4 linked regions of the Homo sapiens genome follow. The protein of the gene in region 4 purifies or fractionates together with the protein of the main gene of each other region. This does not show direct contact. Each region holds a gene or a part of one and is shown on either strand. Other genes may lie near its edges.

Region 1 (4,707 bases), on a different chromosome or scaffold from region 4:
TATTACAGTAAATATTGAGTTAAAAGATTAATTTTTAAGAAATTCTAAAGCCCACTTTGAAGACTTCACAGTACATAATTTTGAAAACTACAAGACCAAACAATAATGAGGTTTAAAGCCTTCATTCCATCTTGAATTATTCACTGCAGTCAATCAATGCACAAAGGGTTGCAATGTCCTCAGACAGATCTACTTTGAGCTATAAAAAATACCATAGTCTTTTGCAGAAAGTAACCCACTCATCTAACAAGACTGGACTGTTTCCCAGTTTCTCAAAAGCTGTAAGTGAAAACTATGATTAGAATACTATATACATTTTTTTCAATATATTCAATAAACTGAAGTAATGATGTTAACCAAAGCAGGGAGGGGATTGAATGTCATCTAGAAAAACTGAAAGGAAATAAAAATTCATCAGTTTTCTACAACACAAAGAATAGTCTATTTTTTAGCAGTATTTTTTTCTCCTAGAGTGGTGAAAGGATGTGTGTCAAGACTGTAACATTTAACAAAAACAGTTCTTGGGAATATACAACCATGTTTTTTATGACTCTTCTCACTCATCTACCTTGGATCAGCAATATGGTACAATGATTAAGAGTGTAGGCCCTCATTGGCGAGAATATGGAGAAATTGAAACCCTGAGGCAATGCTGATAGAAATGTAAAATGGTACAGCCACTGTAGAAAACAGTATGACAGTTCCCCAAAATATTAAAATAGAACATGATATGATCCAGCAATTCAACTTCTGGGTATATACCCGAAACAACTGAAAGCAGGGACTCGGACAGATACTTGCTCGTTAATGCTCAGAGCAGTATTTTTCACAATAGGCAAAAGGTGGAAGCAACCCAAGCATCCACCAACAGATGAACAGATCAACAAAATGGATATATAAAATACACACACACACAGAGAATATTATTCAGCCTTTAAAAAGGATGAAATTCTGATACATACCACAACATGGATGGACCCTGATAACATTATGCTAACCAAAATAAGACAGACAGGAAAAGGACAAATATTGTATAATTCCACTTGAATGAGGTACCTAGAATAGGCAAATTCATAGAGACAGAAAGTAGAATGATGGTTACCAGGGGCTGGAAGAAGAGGTAATGGAGAATTATTGTTAAATGGGTACAGAGTTTCAGTTTGGGGTGATTAAAAAGTTCTAGAGATGGATAGTGGTGATGGTTGTACAACATTGTGAATGTACTTAGTACCCTTGAATTGTACATTTAAAAATTGTTAAAATGGTAAATTTTATGTTATATATATTTTATCACAGTTAAAAAAAAAAAAAAGAGTACAGGTCCTGAGTCAAATAGACCAGCTTCAGTCCTAGCTCTGCTACTTATGAGCTATGTGGCCTTGGATATGTTGCTTGACTTCTTAAAGCCTCAGTTTCTTTTTCTGTAAAATAAGCATAATTACAGTACCTACCCTGTAGATTATTGTGATGAGTCAGTAAGACACAGTTTATGAAGTATCTGGCATATTTATCTCCAGAATACCTTCACATCCTTCAGTAGTTACCTGCTGGATAACCTATAACCTGCAGAAGTATTTTTCCCATCTGGCTAGATGTAACCTCTAGGAGAACATCCCCAGATGGCCCAAGGACACAGGTTCCAAAGCTAGTATTATCTCTCACAGTAGAGTTATAAATTGCATTCTAGTTTATTTTATTTTATTTATTTTATTTCGGTTTTTTTGAGACCGAGTCTCACTCTGTCACCCAGGCTGGAGTGCAGTGATGCAATCTCAGCTCCCTGCAACCTCCACCCCCCAGGTTCAAGCAATTCTCCTGCCTCAGCCTCCCAAGTAGTTGGGACTATAGGCGTGAGCCAGCACATCCGCTAATTTTTGTATTTTTGGTGGAGAAGGGGTCTCGCGATGTTGGCCAGGCTGGTCTTGAACTCCTGGCCTCAAGTGATCCACCCGCCTCCGCCTCCCAAAGTGCTGGGATTATAGGCATGAGCCACTGCGCCTGGCCAGATTTTTTAAAATCCAAGATATAGACAAACTAACACCAAACAGGCTAAATGAATATATGAATTTGGCAAATTAAAATCTGGATGCTTGACTATGGAAGTTTCCACCAAGTTATTGTTCATTTCCAAGACAACATATTACTGTAGCCCTCAAGACCCCTTCCTTTTATAGCTCTCCCTGACACATCCCACCAGGATGTCCTAAACATCATCCAAAAGCTCAGGTCAAAAATGCATATTGGGCCAGGAGCGGCGGCTCATGCTTGTAATCCCAGCACTTTGGGAAGCCAAGGCGGGCGTATCACTTGAAGTCAGGAGTTCGAGACCAACCTGACCAACATGGTGAAACCCCGTCTCTACCAAAAATACAAAAATTAGTCAGGCATGGTGGCATGCACTTGTAATTCCAGCTACTCGGGAGGCTGAGGTGGGAGAATTGCTTGAACCCGGGAAGCGGAGGTTGCAGTGAGCTGAGATAGTGCCACTGCACTCCAGCCCGGGCGACAGAGCAAGACTCTGTCTCACAAAAAAAAAAAAAAAAAAAAAAAAAAAAAGGATATTGACATGTTTTAATGTGCCCAGAGAAAAGCCTGGAAAGACACCCAAATAACCATAACTAACTAAATAGTAGGAGAAAGGGAAGTTTGAGGAAATGTCTCTTTTTGTTTTTTTTTGAGACGGAGTCTCACTCTGTCGCCCAAGCTGGAGTGCAGTGGCGTAGTCTCGGCTCACTGCAACCTCCACCTCCTGGGTTCAAGCTATTCTCCTGCCTGAGCCCCCCGAGTAGCTGGGATTACAGGCATGCGCCACCACACCTGGCTAATTTTTTTGTATTTTTAGTAGAGACGGGGTTTCACCATGTTAGTCAGGCTGGTCTCGAACTCCTCACCTCATGATCTGCCTGCCTCGGCCTCCCAAAGTGCTGGGATTACAGGCATGAGCCACCGGGCCCGGCCGAAATGTCTCATTTTTACTAAATGTTTGCTCTTCTGTATTATTTCACCTTCCTTAAAAAAGCATGTATTACTTTGTCATGAAAAAATCTAATCCATCAATTTTTTTTTTTAATTTTGTTTTTTGAGACAGGGTCTCACTCTGTCTCCCAGGCTGTAGTGCAGTGGTGCAATCACAGGTCACTGCAGCCTCAACCTCCTGGCCTCAAGTAATCCTCCCACCTCAGCCTCCTGAGTAGCTGGGACCACAGGCACGCACCACTATGCCTGGTGATCTCAGCTCACTGCAACCTCCACCTCCTGGGTTCAAGTGATTCTCCCTGCCTCAGCCTCCCAAGTAGCTGGGATTACAGGCACTTGCCACCATGCCTGGCTAATTTTTGTATTTTTAGTAGAGATGGGGTTTCGCCATGTTGGACAGGCTGGTCTTGAACTCCTGACCTCAAGTGATCCGCCTGCCTCCGCCTCCCAAAGTGCTGGGATTACAGGGGTGAGCCACTGCACCCTGCCTATTTGTAGCAATATTATCTTTCCTAGTACTGTCCCTGGAAATAATTTCCTACACTCTACTATTTTATAAGGTTTTTTAAAATCCCCAATTATCATGCTAATACATTCCAAATAAAAGAAGTAGAATAGGAATACTTTCAGAAACAACAGAACATGACTGAAATGGCAGAGTGTCTGTTAACCTTCTACACCCTTGAGTACCTCCAATCTCCACAAACGTGATGACTGCACTCCCGGACTGTCTGTCATAGTCCACGCGGTCCACCTCTCCGCCTCCATTTCGGGACTTTGAAAAGCTCAGCTCTAGTTTGTCTCTCATTTGATCTTCACGCAATGTGTCAGGAATTTCAGTAACATTGATTTTCATTTTAGAAACTTCTACATAAACCTGGAAAATGATTTGATGTTCAGAAATATGGATGAGAGAAGTGCTTGTGATGAACAGAAATCCAAAAAATTTTAATCATCCTGTTACCTGGAATCTGACTCCTGAATTTAATGGAACTGGCTTGGCCGTAACCTCCAGATTTACATCTTTTATCTGTACATGATGTTTACTCATGCTTACCACATTTTGAGCAACTGAAAAATAATTCAGGAAGGAAGTATTAATTTCCAATATTTTAAGAATTGTTATGCTTTTGGTTTAAGAACAAATTATCCTGAATATTTTTAATTTTCTTTAATATTAAAGGGTCTAATTTTAAAAATTTGGCGGGCGGTGATTCCAAGTGATAATGGTCTTGCTACCAAAGTAGAATATATAATTTGGGGGGTCAGGGGGAAGGAGGACCAGATCTCATTCTGTCACTGAAGCTGGAATGCAGTGATGTGATCATAGCTCACTGTAACCTCAAACTCCTGGGCTCAAGAGATCCTCCCACCTCAGCTTCCAGAATAGCTATGATTACAGGTGCATGCCACCACGCCTAGCTAATTTTTTTAACTTTTTGTAGAGACGAGCTCTCACTTTGTTACCCAGGCTGCTCTGGAACTCCTGGACTCAAGCAATCCTCCTGCATCGGACTCCCAGACAAAGTTCTGGTATTATCAGGATGAGCCACTGCTCTTGGTCCCAAAGTAGAATATATTAATGTCAAAGTATATCAGCAAAATCACAATGTAGAAGTTCTCAAGTTCTAGATTCTTCTCATAAGATGAATCTTTTCTCTTATCTCTTAAGAGATAAGCCTAACAATCTTCCAGAATTCATATATTACTTCAGCTCAGCCACATACCCTT
Region 2 (4,707 bases), on a different chromosome or scaffold from region 4:
CAGCATGTTAGTGTACTTGTATGTTTGTTAGTGTCCCCAAGGCATGGGGATGCCTCTGGCTAAAGCTTTGATGTTAAGAGAACTCTGCAATTCTCATGAATCCCAAGGCTCAATGGGCCTGTGGCTGGAGGAGAGGAAGCTATATCCCCCAACCCGGCCCCAGTCTGTGAACTGTCCCCCAGTATTCTGTAAAGCCTCCCACATGCCTCACCTGGCTGGCAGCAGCCTCAGCTGCAGGGCCTAGGTCTGGGTGGTGCTCAGAGTGACCTGCCCTGGGGGGCCTCTCCACAGGAGAGTTCCGCCGGCGGTAGAAGAGTACATAGGCATAACGCGTCACAACCTGGCTCTCGTCTACCGTTGTCACTGTGCTGTCATCAAACAAGCGCCAGCCTACAGCAGGGTGGGAAGAGTGTGAACAAAGTCTGCACCACCACCCCTACCACCTATCCTGCTGGCTGTGTGTGCCCTCACCCACGTCACTGCGCTGACTGCTACGATCATTGGGCAGGCGTGCACAGGCAGTGTAGTGGCCACCAATCATGCCTCCATAGTGGTTGATGACAGCATATAGATCGTAGCTGGGCAGCTGCTCCTCTTTCTGACCAATGCAGAACTTGCTCAGGTCCAGGTTCCTGCAGGTCAGGTCCAGTCAGGGAGGGGTGAGACAGGCAACAGGCGCTCAGGATGCCCATCCTGGTCCTCACACCCCACCCACAGTTACCAAGGTCCACTGCTTACCTAACAGGGAACTCCACCAAGTCATTGATCTTGTCACGCCAGATAAAACTACGAAAGGAGAAGCGCTTGAGCTGCACGATGAGAACATTTGGCAGGCGCCATAGCAACAGCTGCTTGGAGGCCTCACGGTGCTGTTTGCACTGTGGGCAGTACCTGGTGGGGACAGAGATTGGGTCAGGACCAGCAAGTCTCTCTCTTCTCCATCCTGCCCCCTTATCTACTTGCTGCTCTGTTCTCACCAGGCCTCCTCGGGTGCCAGCACCTCAGGCCGTGTGAAGAGGTTGAGGCACTGGTCCAGGGTGAAGTGGCCGGCCCGGGCAGCCTCACCGGCAGAGCCTGGATCCTCAGCACATTCCAGCTCCTTGGAGGCTACCAACACAAACTCCTGCAAGCGCTCATTGTTCCGCCAGACGAGAGCCAGGCTACAGTCGTCACCCAGCTCCAGTGGGGTGTCTCCTGGAGATTCGCAGGGAGAGAGGTCATGCAGCTGTGGAGAACAGCCAGCTCAACCCACCCCATGGCTCCCACCCACAGCCTCAGACACCTTTGTCCTCTAGCCGCTGCTCTCGGTTGGATGAATCAATTTTATAGATGAAGAACTGGGGTGTGTGGGCATTCATAGCTTCACTTGGATGCTGGTACCCAGGCACAGCAGCTGTGTGAGAACATGATAATCAAAGCTTCCCTGCCCATCAGGGCCTCACCAGGCCCACCAGGCCCTAAACAACAGCCCCCTCCATCCTCCCTTATCCTCCTCCCCAGCTTCTAGAGCCTTTCACTGGATCTTACCTTCGGGTCGGGACACCCTCTCGCCAGCTGGCAAGGAGCCAACCTCAATGGGCCCACTGGCCAGCATCTCAGAAGAAATTCCACTGGTGCTGGGCACAGGACCCCGGTCAGGGGCTGCCCACACCCGGGGAAGCCCTGTGTCCCCCTCAGCCATAGGGGTCACCAGCTGGAGCTCAGGTGGCTGAATGGGGTCTCTCTCGCTGTCCCCAGCCTCCAGGGAACCTGTGGAGAGCAGTGTGGTGCAGCCAGGGCTCTGAGACTCCAAGGCCATGCGGCCTGGCTGAAAGGGTGGCTGGAATACACTCACAGAGTACCTGGCAACAGAGAACAACGCAAGTAAGACTCCTGACCAGCCCATCTAGCACCTCTGCCCCCACCTACACCACTCTAGTCCAACCACTGGGCACTTACCGGGCATAGCCCTCTAGCAACTGAGCGAGGCGGGCATAAGTGAGGCGTGAGGCAGGTACACTGACCAGGAAGGGGTAGCCAATGTTCTCAGGTCGGCAGAGGCCCTTGTGGTCAGGCCAGTGGGTTTTCTGGCAGAGCCTGACGGGAAGAGGAAGACAAGGATAGGCCCTTAGCCCCATCTCCTATGACTCCATACTGGGGGCTAGTCATAGTCCCTGGGAACTGGGTACGCCAGCCCTGCCTCCCCCAGAGCCTGGTAAAGTAGGGTGGCAAGTAGAAAGCTTAAGCATATGTGCCTTGGTGTGAAGGGAAGGAGCAGGGTGGCACATGGAAGGTGGAAAGAAAGGGTAGGGGAGACCATGGGGGTCCTCACTGGTTGCAGTAGCCCACACGGTAGCACCGGGTACAGCGCTTCAGCTTTTCATCCTCCGACTGTTGCTTCCGCTGGCAGGCTGCACACTTGGAGATGGGGACGCTGGGCACCTGGGGGCGCTAGGGTGGGTCGTCTGGCTCAGCAAGACCAGGAAGAAGTGCCCCACCCACCAGGGCGCTGTGCCATCAGGTTGGCCCCCACTCACCTGTTGCACCTCTAGCACCACTACCCGCTCCTTAGCCAACTCTGAGGATAGCAGCTCAAAGCAGAGGAGCGTATCAGATGGGGACACAGTGTCCAGTGAGTGGGAGGGTAGGAACACACGATGAAAACGATTCTTAATTACCTGGGGACAGAGAACACACAGATCCCACGTGAGGATAAGCCCTTTCCCTAGCCCTGCCCCAGAGTTTAAGAAGGCTTGGCCCTGCCTTGGGTCTATGTGGGCAGTGGTGAGGTCTGTAGGCCCAAATAGGCTTATGCCTCTGCTGGCACCTGTCTCAGTGCCCAATGCCATAAGGAGCCTGGTGCATCAGAGGGCCTGAAAGACCAGGTGTGAGGCAGATATCAACCACACCAGCTCTCCACACTGAGGGACTCTGCCCTGCTATAACTAGCATAGCCTTATAAGACTGTAACATATTATCATGGAGGGTCCACATTCAAAGAGCCTCCTCCCCACTCTTACCCCTAAGAAAACCAACACTGTCAGGCTAAAGGCTAGGAACCCCTGGGGAGAGCTAGCACACACAACTGGGATAAAAGGAGAGAGCAGCAGGATAGAGGGAGAGGCAGAGCGAACATAGGGATAGTCCTGCAGCTCAAGCTCCTTGTCTAAAAAGGGAAATGCAGTTGGGATCCACCACCACAAAGGGGAATAAACCCTGATAATGGCTAGGAACTGAGGGCACTTCTGTTGCACAGAAAAAATAACAGCACATCGCCTGTTTTTGTACAGTCACAGGCATACTCATGTGTATGTCTATTTTTATTTTATTTTATTTTATTTTTGAGACAGAGTCTCACTCTGTCACCCAGGCTGGAGTGCAGTGGCGCGATCTCGGCTCACTGCAACCTCTGCCTCCCAGGTTCAAGCGATTCTCCTGCCTCAGCCTCCTGAGCAGCTGGGACTACAGACATGTGCCACCACGCCCGGCTAACTTTTCCTGTATTTTTAGTAGAGGTGGGGTTTCACCATGTAAGCCAGGGTGGTCTGGATCTCCTGACCTTGTGATCCATCAGCCTTGGCCTCCCAAAGAGCTGGGATTACAGGCATGAGCCACCACGCCTGGCCCTATTTTTATTTTTTTATCTATTTATTTATTTATTTTTGAGACAGAGTCTCACTCTGTCACCCAGGCTGGAGTGCTGTGGTGCAATCTCTGCTCACTGCAACCTCCACATCCCGGGCTCAAGTGAGCCTCTTGCCTCAGCCTCCCAAGTAGCTGGGACTATAACACGTACCACCATGCCCAGCTAATTTTATTTCTTGTAGAGACAGTGTTTCACCAAGTTGCCCAGGCTGGTCCCAAACTCCTGGGCTCAAGTGATCTGCCCACCTCGGCCTCACAAAGTGCTGGGACTACAGGCATGAGCCACTGTGCCCAGCCCATGTGTATGTCTGTAGATGCCAATGACTGTACACACGTCTGTGGTGAGTACACACACACATCCACACATGTGATAGCCCAAGGAAGGACAAAGATACCTCCGCCAAACGCAGGTTCTCAGGCTTCACATGAACACTCTGAGAGAGGGAGTCCAATACTTCGCTCGCAGTGGAGTTCTCCTTGCTGACGCTCACCAGGAACTGTGGCAAAAAGGGCAGTCAGTGAGGGAGGTGGGCCACGTTCTCTAGAACAGCCCAGAGGGTAGGGGCTTACTCCTCACCTTGATGGGCTTGCTGTGGGGCTCTCGGGCAAAATAAAAGACAGGGAGAACCTTTTGCTTTTGTGGCAAGGGCACCGGCAGATAAAGAAACGGGTCAAAAGTGATGGAGACCTGTGGATGTAGAGGTGGCACTGGGTAGCTGCACACAGAGTGGGAGATAAGATGCTCATGCTCAGAGAGCCCATTCCGGGGCTTCTGATGGCTCTCAGGGCCCCCACAGCCAACCAGCAAACTCTCAGGCTTCAGGACACTAGACAGGGCAGGAGGACCACCAGGAAATAACAATCCTTCTTTCTGGCACTCAAAGCCCTACTCAGCTTAGCCACTTTACGAATTGGCCTCACACTTGCACCCCATGTGCCCACAACCCTGCTACAACACCTTTGAGCTCTAACATCACTTTTCCCTCAGTCAGGAAGCCTACCCTGAGTGGGCTCTTCAGCCCAAATAGAATCCTAAGGCCTCCCTGCCAGCTTCTTTGCCCAAACCTTGCCCTGTAGCACCTT
Region 3 (4,707 bases), on a different chromosome or scaffold from region 4:
GAGCCACCACGCCTGACCTTTTTTTTTTTTTGTAGACAGAGTCTTGCTTTGTTGCCCAGGCTGGAGTACAGTGGTGCGATCTCGGCTCACTCACTGCAACCTCTGGCCCCCGGATTCAGCAATTCTCCTGCCTCAGCCTCCCTAGTAGCTGGGATTACAGGCATCTGCCACCATGCCCAGCTAATTTTTTTATTTTTAGTAGAGATGGGGTTTCACCGTGTTGGCCAGGCTGGTCTCAAACTCCTGGCCTCAAGTGATCTGCCCACCTTGGCCTCCCACAGTGTTGGAATTACAGGCGTGAGCCATTGAGCCCAGCCCTTACTTTAAATATTAAGCCTATTTACAGTGGGGCATGGTGGCTCCCACCTGTAATCCCAGCTACTTGGGAGGCTGAGGCAGGAGAATCGCTTGAACCCAGGGGTGGAGGTCACAGTGAGCTGAGATCACACCACTGTACTCCAGCCTGGGCAACAGAGTGAGACTCCGTCTCAAAAACTAAATAAATAAATAAAATAAAGTAAGTGTGTGTTACAAAGGACTGCTAAAAACATACCTTTTTCATACAACAAAAGAATAAATATTAAGTAGAATTGTACACATACACACATCTAGCTATACACTGCTGGCTTACTCCTACTCATTACTCCTGGGGTCAGCTTTCAAAGCCAGCCCAAGCTAATATCTGTGCTCTCTTCACTATCTCACTAGCAAAGGTAGGGCTCACTCCCATTTCCTCTTGTGCCAACATAAACACACAGACACACACGTAAGCATGCACAATCTCGCTCTGAACCATCATTTCCGCCTAAGATCAAGGTTATCTGGATCAAGTCCTACACATGAGATTTGACTCAACTGCTTCCTTTCTGCAGGTGAATGGAGGACTGCTTTCAAGACTCACCAAGGGAGGCTGCATGCAGGAGGCAGTTCCCATCTCCAGTAGTTGCCAAAGGAAGCAGCCTCTGAGAGGTGGGATCCACACTCACCCACCAGTTCAAACGCCCTGTAGAAACAAGATAGTGGAGGAAAAGGAGATTATCCATGAAGCCCTTCCACCTTCCTATTTCTGAAACAGACTCCAAAGCAGCCTCCTCTAGGAGGCCTACCCAGAATAAAACCATCACTTGATTACTCTTTATATCTTCCTCACTTATATCTAGTCAGTCAGAATCTTGTGAGCACAATTGGTTAGATCAGTGAGTAGGGTCAATTTTGTCCCAAAGGGACACTGGCAATGACTGAAGATATGTTTGCATGTCACAACTGGTAGCAGGATGCTACTGGTATCTAATGGGTAGAGGCCAGGGATGCTGCTAACCATGATATAATGCACAAGGCAGCTTGCAAAACAAAGAATTATCTAGACCAAAATGTCAATAGTGCCAAGGTTGAGAAACCCTGGGTTAAATGACGAGGCCAAGGACATAAGTTGAAACTGTTGACTGCTTGGACTGGCCCTGATTCCTTCCCTCCACTCAGGAGACCAGTATGTATCACAGCAACAAAGCTCAGCAAAAATCCATCATGAACAAAACAAAAACAACTCAAAGCATGTATTTAAGGTGTTTTATGAGTATCATCTGCATATATGACAGCATGTCATCACGTGTGGGGTGTGACTTTAAAGGAATGAGCAATAAGATAAAGTACATAAAATATCCAAGAAAATAAGTCTTAATTCCATGCAGTCATCCCACAATTGCCAACCCATTATTTACATGAGGAAAATATCTTATGAGTGATGCATAAGTTTTCTTGAACTACTGTGGAGCATAGTTTTTGAACTACTGAATGAAAAACTGGCTTATAAACTCCCCAGACCAGATAATTTACCAACTTAAAAAAAAATTACAAATAGATGTATATGGTTAATATAGAAGGTTACAAAATGAAAAATAAAAGCTTCCTTTCCATGCCCTCATCTAACTCCAGTTCTTATCCCACACAAGCATTTTAATGCCTGATTAGCTTTTCCAAAATTCCCAGCTGCCTCACCCTATGATAAGAATTAATTTTAACAATAATTTAAGATAAACACAATTACAAACGTAAATACATTTGGGGGGATAGGTTCACTACTGTGCATCATCTACAGCATTGGTCATTTCTGTTCACAAGGGTGTTCCAGGGCCAATTATAATTAGTTGTATTTTTTTCATGTATTGATTTCGAGGTATTGATTCCTAGGCCTTTTCACATGTGTATCTGGTTTCTCTTCCATCAACCAGGAAATTCCCAGAGTAAAGTATCTAATCTGTATCCATTCTTTGACAGCACAAGTTTATCCCACTGACTCCTGACTTTGCAATCAGATAACACACTTAAACTGGAAGCTAGCGATCAAGTCCAGCCCCTCCACAAGGCTGCCTGTAGGTGGAGAGTAGAGGGAAGAGTGTGGGAGAGGAAGCACTCACTGACCTGCCTGTTCCAAGGCAACCAGCATGGACTGCTCAATGAGGTCTCTCTCTATGAAGCTGCGGAAGTCTTCATTGTATACAGTGAGATCTGGAAGCTGGAAGGCACAGATGGGCATTTCCAGGGGGTGCTCATTGCTCCCCCCACCCCCACCATTGGAGGAGACATGGGACCGGGCCAGGGAAACAATGCTGGAGCTGGCGTGGGAGATGCCCCTAGACAGGCGTTTTTCTGCAATGAGAAATGGAGTCACCTTAGAACATACACAGCCCACTTGGAGAACTCTACACTGATGTGGTGATAGTTACCTCTCAACAGGGTTTACAGTCAGAGAAAAACTAAGTCTAACTGACTACTGAATTTCAGAACCCTTTTTCTGAAGCCAAATACAATTGGAGAAATAGAGACAGTATTTTTGTAGGCACTCACATTAGCACCAAATTATTCATTCCTCTTTCTGCCCTTGTTTGGAATTTGCCTGATCTTCCCCTCCCTCTGACTGTCTTCCTCCACTTCCATATTTCCCAGTGTGATAGGGACCCATTCATTTAGCAATTTGGTCATTGTTTGGTGGGAGGAGAGGGAATAAGGGAAGTGAGGTTTCACTAGACTAGAGTTAGTCAAATAACCTCTCTGGTAATTCTCAGGGTCTTGGGAAATACCTTTTCTAAAGGGTATTTTCATTCTAGAAAGATTATAAAAGAAATCCATTATAGAAAAGAAAATCCTTTGGGAGGCCAAGGCAGGTGGATCACCTGAGGTCAGGTGTTCAAGAGCAGCCTGACCAACGTGGTGAAACACTGTCTCTACTAAAAATACAAAAATTAGCCGGGCATGGTGGTGTGCCCCTATAATCCCAGCTACTCGGGAGGCTGAGGTGGGAGAATTGCTTGAACCTGGGAGGCGGAGGCTGCAGTGAGCCAAGATTGTGCCACTGCACTCCTGCCTGACAACAGAGCAAGACCCCGTTTCAAAAAAAAAAAAAAAAGACAATCAACAACAAATCTTACACATTTGGGAACTTTCTTCCTACATCAATAACATTAATTTATATTGCTTACTACAACTACTCTCAATACCCATATTTATCAGAAATTTATAGGGACAGTCAATTCTTAACAGTCTATAGAGAACAATAATGTAGATAGTACCCCACATCATTTCATTTGTTTTGAATACATGACACTTGTAATTCCCAAGCAGATATTCCACTGTGATTATAATTTGCTCAATGTAGTATTACAGTTCATTTGTATGGCTTCAATTATGTAATGATTTAATGATGATCCAAAGGGGGCAAAATTTCAAAAGCATGTTGGGCTGTTCTTAATACAACATTTGCCAGATATGATACACAAAATAAACTGAGTTGTCTAAAGTTATCTTATAGTGATGTTATTTTTCAAATATTTTTTAGTTTTGTTTGTTTTTGTTCTTTGAGACAGAGTCTCGCTCTGTCGCTCAGGCTGGAGTGCAGTGCTGCAGTCTCGGCTCACTGCAACCTCTGCCTCCCAGGTTCAAGGGATTCTCCTGCCTCAGCCTTCTGAGTAGCTAGGATTACAGGCACACGCCACCACACCCAGCTAATTTTTTTTTTTATTTTAGCAGAGACGGGGTTTCTCCACATTGGTCAGGCTGTTCTCCTCAAACTCCTGGCCTCAGGTGATCTGCCAGCCTTGGCCTCCCAAAGTGCTGGGATTACAGGCGTGAGCCACCACACCCACCTTAAAAATATTTTTTAGGTATTCGTAGGCTGAGCATGGTGGCTCACACCTGTAATCCCAAAACTTTGGGAAGCCAAGGTAGAAGGATCACTTGAGCCCAGGAATTCGAGACCACCTGGGCAACAGAGTGAGACCTAATTTCTACAAAGAATCAAAAATTTAGCTAGGTGAGGTGGTGCGTGCCCATGCTCCCAGCTACTTGGGAGGCTGAGGCAGTAGGATCCCTTGAGCCTAGGAGGTTTAGGCTGTAGTGAGCTGTGTTCCACCAGCCTCACTCCAGCCTTGGAGGACAGAGCAAGACCCTGCCTCAAAAACAGTACCATGTGCCTATGGTAAAAAATCAATATACCATCAAAAGGTATAAAATGATTTCACAAGGAAGTCTTCTTATCATTCAAAATTCCTGATCCCTTCCCCAGAGGCAAACTTTTGTATCCTTCTAGAAATTTTTATGCATACAGAAGCATATACAGGTTTTGGCCGGGCACGATGGCTCACGCCTGTAATCCCAACACTTTGGGAGGCCGAGGCAGGTGGATCACAAGGTCAGGAGATCGACACCATCCTG
Region 4 (4,707 bases):
TCACCCCAAAAAGATCCCTCATGCCTACTTAAGATGGCTATGTTAATTTTATAATAAAACACATTGTTTCATTACTGACATAGACTATGTGGAAATTCATCTCCTCTTTCTGCTCCCAGTTATACCATAGAAATAATCCCTTCTCCCAATGAAATCTTCACTCTCTCTGTCCTGTCAATGCCAAACTCTCTGACAGAGTGGCTTATATTTTATTGCTTTCCTAATTCTCTGCCTTCTGAACCTCCTGTACATCTTGAAATTTCTTTTGTAAAAGTCTCTGATAACTTGTTAAGTACCAAATAAAAGTCTGCATCTGTTTTTCTCTCCAGGATTTGGCTGTGTTGGTCACAATTTCCACTCCCATTCTGAAATTGTCTCTTTCCTAATTATTGACATGCTGCTCAGTTTGGAGTCTCTTAAAATCCTGACCACTTCTCTTCTTAACTGGCATCTTTCTTCTGTCTTCTAGACAGAATAATAAACTATATTCTATTCTCATTTTTATTTCCTTTCTATACTTGCTTTCTTGGCAACCTCACCCACTCCTAGATATTCACCAGTTACCACATGCAGAAGATGCCCAGGTCTTTTATCTAGCCTCTCTTTAAGTTTCAGTCATTTCTATCTACTTGATAAAATGGTACATTTGAATGTGCCATTGATACCTCAAACTTGCAGTCCACTTACATGATCTCCCTCTCTGAAGTTGGTTCTTTGTTCTAGTTTCTCAATTTCTGTGTATGCACTCTGTATTCTTCCATTATTCTAGGTGTGATATCTGAATCTTTTGGCACTCCCCTGCTGTCCCCTGCTTTTTTTCCCCTCTAATCATAAGCTAACTCTTTTTCATTTAAATCTCCAAAATGAACTTAAAATGATAATATGCTATTCAGTATATTAATAGTTTAAACTACTTAAAAACTAGCAGATACATATTAGTAGAATATATGAACATACTTTTTCATAGATAACCAAGCAGATTATTATGTAAAGGTTTTTAGAGAATTACTTCTTTTTTTAAGAGACTGCCTTCAGTCAACGAGATAAATAATGATATGTGACTCTTAAATGGTGTTGTTTAGATAACTTGCTAATAGCTTAAGCTAGTGATTTTCAATCTGGAGCAATTTGGCCCCCAAGGGGATACTTGACAATGTCTGGAAACAGCTTTGGTTGATACAACTGAGCAGATGCTACTGACATCTAGTGGGCAGAGGCCAGGAATGCTGCTGAAGATTGTACAATGCCTGGGACAGCCGCATGATGGTTATTGACCCAAAATGTCCACAACGCTGAAGTAGAGAAACCCCAATTTAAACATATAACTACTGTCATGGCTAAACTGTGTTCCTCCCACCCCAAATTCAGTGTTGAAGCCCTAACCACTAGTACCTCAGAATGTGAGTGTATTTAGAAATAGGCCTTTAAGGAGATAATTAAGTTAAAATGAGACGGTTAGAATGGTCTATAATCCAATTTGATAGGTGTCCTTAAGAGAAGAGGAAATTTGGACACACAAGCGTGTACACACACAGAGAAAAGGCCATATGGGGACACAGAAAGAGGGCAGCCATCTGCCAGCCAAGGAGAGAGGCCTCAGAGGAAACCAAACCTGCAAACATCTTTATCTTAGACTTCTAGCTCCCAGAATTATGGGAAAATAGTTTTCTGTTGTTTAAGCCACACAGTCTGTGGCTTGAATATTTAAAAACAGTTACTACATAACCGTGGTATGTAGTTATCCCAGCCCAAGAAAACTAATACAATTACACTGCAAAAAAAGTCCACTTATCTTCCAGTTTAGTTACAGAAAATTTCTCTGCCTTTGGGTTCTTCTTGGCTAACTCCTTCAGTAGCTCATCTGCCACCCAAACAGCTTTCAAGTTCTTTGACCTCTTTATTTTGCCTTCCGCCCAGTATTATCAGTTGTGATCTGTCATTTATGATGCCACACATCATAGTGACATGGATATGGAAGGTGGTTCAAGGTCTAAATGTTACTCTAACATATCTGTAATATTTTGGTTAATTATCACTAATGTGATATAGAAAAGAACAACTTTAAAAAGGTGAAATGGGAGAAATCTGGCTGACAGGAAGCCCTAATGAATTATTTAAATTTTAGGAGAAAAAAAGAACGATAGAGAGGGAAATTAATTATTCGGCCCAATACTTCCATTCTTCTCTGAGAAGCAAATGTAGCTCCTAAGCTCTACAGTGTCAGTGTGCCTCATTTCTCTGACTTCTGACATAGTAAGTTGATACAGATATACATTTCAAGGAAGCAGATTTTTAATATTTAAAAATGCATATTTAGCAAGAAAAGGAAGGAAAAATAATGAAGCTTGAACAAGAGTGGTTTTACCTTTTCTGCAATTTTCAGAGAAACATCTCTAATGGTATTCAAAGGAGGATAAAGCCGACCCTCTTCCAAGTGTTTATCTGACACTTGCTGAGCTATAACCTTATGAAAAAAAGAAAGAAAAAAAGTGTTTATACTTCACACGATACAATGTGGTGGGTACGCCAATAACTAAGTGAACGGTTACATATAATGGTCTATACAAAAACCAGTGACATTAATATGATTACCTAATTTCATCCCCACTTCTATCAACAAAGAAATAAGCCCAGAGTGGTGTGGTGGTGGTTGAGATCACATAATTGGTGAAAAAGATGGGAATAGAATCTAGGTTTCCTTTTAGTCCACTTCCTTTTCTATTGTACCATGAAATGCTAGATACTTTCCAATTGATACATTAGGGGAACAAGGGAAAAGAAAAGAAAGAAAGAGGAAGATGATAGAGTAATGAAAATGGATCCTGAAAGCAGAGGAGGACAGCTATCCAAGGCTAAGCATGCCATTACTCCCAGCTCTGAGTCATATTCTTGTGCAGGAGGTAGAGCAAAAGGCTGAGAAAGCTAGTTCAGAGTCTCACTACAAATAGGATTTTAATTTTACACAGACTCTGGATTATCTAAATCACCTAATTAGCCTCAACATTTACTGTCCCCAAACCATTCCCTAGTTCCAAATCAAACAGTGTTAAATTTTGTATTGAACCCTAAGGCAGAGAGGGAGACTCAGTAACCCTGATGTTCTCTCCAGCTCTAAGACTTTGATTAAATTTCTAGATGGGGGCAAATCTAAATCAGCTTATACCTAGGCCTTTGTTCCATGAAAATGTGGATGCAGAGAGGGAGTAGGAAACCTTCCTCTTTTGTAACATTTTAAATAATCAAATACTTATTTTTCAGTATATCTTAATATCTTTTAGATTTTTAAATCATGAAATTATTTCCAAAATATTATTCTTTGCCATCAGCAAACATATATGCACTGAACAAGCATAACACTACGGAGAAGCTTAAGAAAAGTGTTATTGTCCTTGAGAGATGTATAATTTAGTAAGGTAACAGAGTACGGGAAGAAAAAGAGAACGCTGAAAGAGAAGACGGCTTAGGCTAATGGTGAAATGTGGGTGCTAAGAAATCCAGAGGAAGAGCAGTTCTGGAAGGCCTTATAGTGCACAGTGGCTTGAAAGGCAAACCTACAGGAAAGCCTGGAGTTAGACAAACAGAAAGTAGGTAGGCATTTCAGACAAAAAACAGAGTCAGACCAAAGGCAGAGTTGTGTGTGAGCTGGACTCAGCAGGCCCAAGTGTCCTGACCTGGGGGAGCAGAGGGTCTGGGTACAGAAATAAGGACTGGAGCATTATCAATGTCAAAAAAGGAGTTTGGAGTTAAATCCCGTCGGTGACTAAGGACTTCTGACCAGGGACATTTAGGCAGAGGTAAGATGGAAAGGAGAAGGAGGTAAAGTTACTAGTATAACTATTTGTTTGATTAGTATTGCTCTACATATTATACAAAATATTATAACATATAATTGTAGGGTGTTGACCATAATTTTATAATAAACTCATCATTTAACTCATTAATTTCTTGCCTTTGTAACAGGATGTTTGCCCTAGAATTGGTCATCAGGGTCCCAAACTTCAGGACAAAGATACGTTAACTATTCCACACTATCAGGAAGTCACCAAACAAGTGGGGCTTGCCATCTACCTCAGAAAGTAGAATCAGCCCTGCCAACCCCACAAACCACAGCCACCCCCTTCCAGAAGGCTGAGCTAGTGAGAGGCAGGGAAATTTGCTGGAACCATGGTTTGGCCTACTGGGTAATGTAGTGGCTTTTTCCTCCCCTCTTCTTGGTGCATGCTACTCCTTCTTAAAGGCTTATGGTGTCCTCAAGGAAAGACTGGGGGGCATTCTTTTCCCCTCCTCAGCGTGAGCAGTTATAGGTATGTGTACTTAAGCAGAGAAGAGAATGGGAAAGGGAGAGCCAGACAGACAGGGTGGCTGTAAGCTGTATACATTCCCATCAGTGGATCTGGTATGGGTACATGAGTTTCCAAGGTCAAGCGGCCATAGCAGAGGAGGCCTCTGCATCCCTGGGGACCTGAAGAAGTGTAAGGAAGCTAGGCTGAAGCCAGACATCCTACATCAGAGGGCCAGATTTGGACCCTGCCAGAGAGAATTAGTGGAGTTAATAATCGAGTTAATAAAAGAGATGTTTGCCCTTTTCCATGCCCTTCCTTCTTTTCTCCAACGTATTTGAAGAAGTAGTCTTTAACAAAAAGAGGGAGGAGGTTTCTCAGAGTCGAGCCAAACATTTCCCCCCAAATTCCTCAAAGTGCTAGCTTC

The links. Proteins that work in one complex are often made in the same cells at the same time.
Region 1: the proteins of ME1 (region 4) and NMI fractionate together in Homo sapiens (co-fractionation; one large-scale study listed by BioGRID). This does not show direct contact.
Region 2: the proteins of ME1 (region 4) and USP19 purify together in Homo sapiens (affinity purification with western blotting; one study listed by BioGRID). This does not show direct contact.
Region 3: the proteins of ME1 (region 4) and OTUD7B purify together in Homo sapiens (affinity purification with mass spectrometry, with the first as the bait; one study listed by BioGRID). This does not show direct contact.

The regions. Positions count from the first base shown.
Region 1 is NC_000002.12:151,271,818-151,276,524, forward strand, and holds part of NMI (N-myc-interactor), read right to left. Parts: intron 4,048-4,707; coding exon 3,941-4,047; intron 3,854-3,940; coding exon 3,667-3,853; intron 1-3,666. UniProt on the Homo sapiens protein: Acts as a signaling pathway regulator involved in innate immune system response.
Region 2 is NC_000003.12:49,109,973-49,114,679, forward strand, and holds part of USP19 (ubiquitin carboxyl-terminal hydrolase 19), read right to left. Parts: intron 4,313-4,707; coding exon 4,202-4,312; intron 4,122-4,201; coding exon 4,020-4,121; intron 2,658-4,019; coding exon 2,517-2,657; intron 2,431-2,516; coding exon 2,312-2,430; intron 2,077-2,311; coding exon 1,939-2,076; intron 1,842-1,938; coding exon 1,528-1,841; intron 1,394-1,527; coding exon 1,283-1,393; intron 1,195-1,282; coding exon 978-1,194; intron 892-977; coding exon 739-891; intron 633-738; coding exon 472-632; intron 391-471; coding exon 212-390; intron 1-211. UniProt on the Homo sapiens protein: Deubiquitinating enzyme that regulates the degradation of various proteins by removing ubiquitin moieties, thereby preventing their proteasomal degradation. Stabilizes RNF123, which promotes CDKN1B degradation and contributes to cell proliferation.
Region 3 is NC_000001.11:149,964,876-149,969,582, forward strand, and holds part of OTUD7B (OTU domain-containing protein 7B), read right to left. Parts: intron 2,647-4,707; coding exon 2,419-2,646; intron 1,004-2,418; coding exon 902-1,003; intron 1-901. UniProt on the Homo sapiens protein: Negative regulator of the non-canonical NF-kappa-B pathway that acts by mediating deubiquitination of TRAF3, an inhibitor of the NF-kappa-B pathway, thereby acting as a negative regulator of B-cell responses.
Region 4 is NC_000006.12:83,214,133-83,218,839, forward strand, and holds part of ME1 (NADP-dependent malic enzyme), read right to left. Parts: intron 2,465-4,707; coding exon 2,366-2,464; intron 1-2,365. UniProt on the Homo sapiens protein: Catalyzes the oxidative decarboxylation of (S)-malate in the presence of NADP(+) and divalent metal ions, and decarboxylation of oxaloacetate.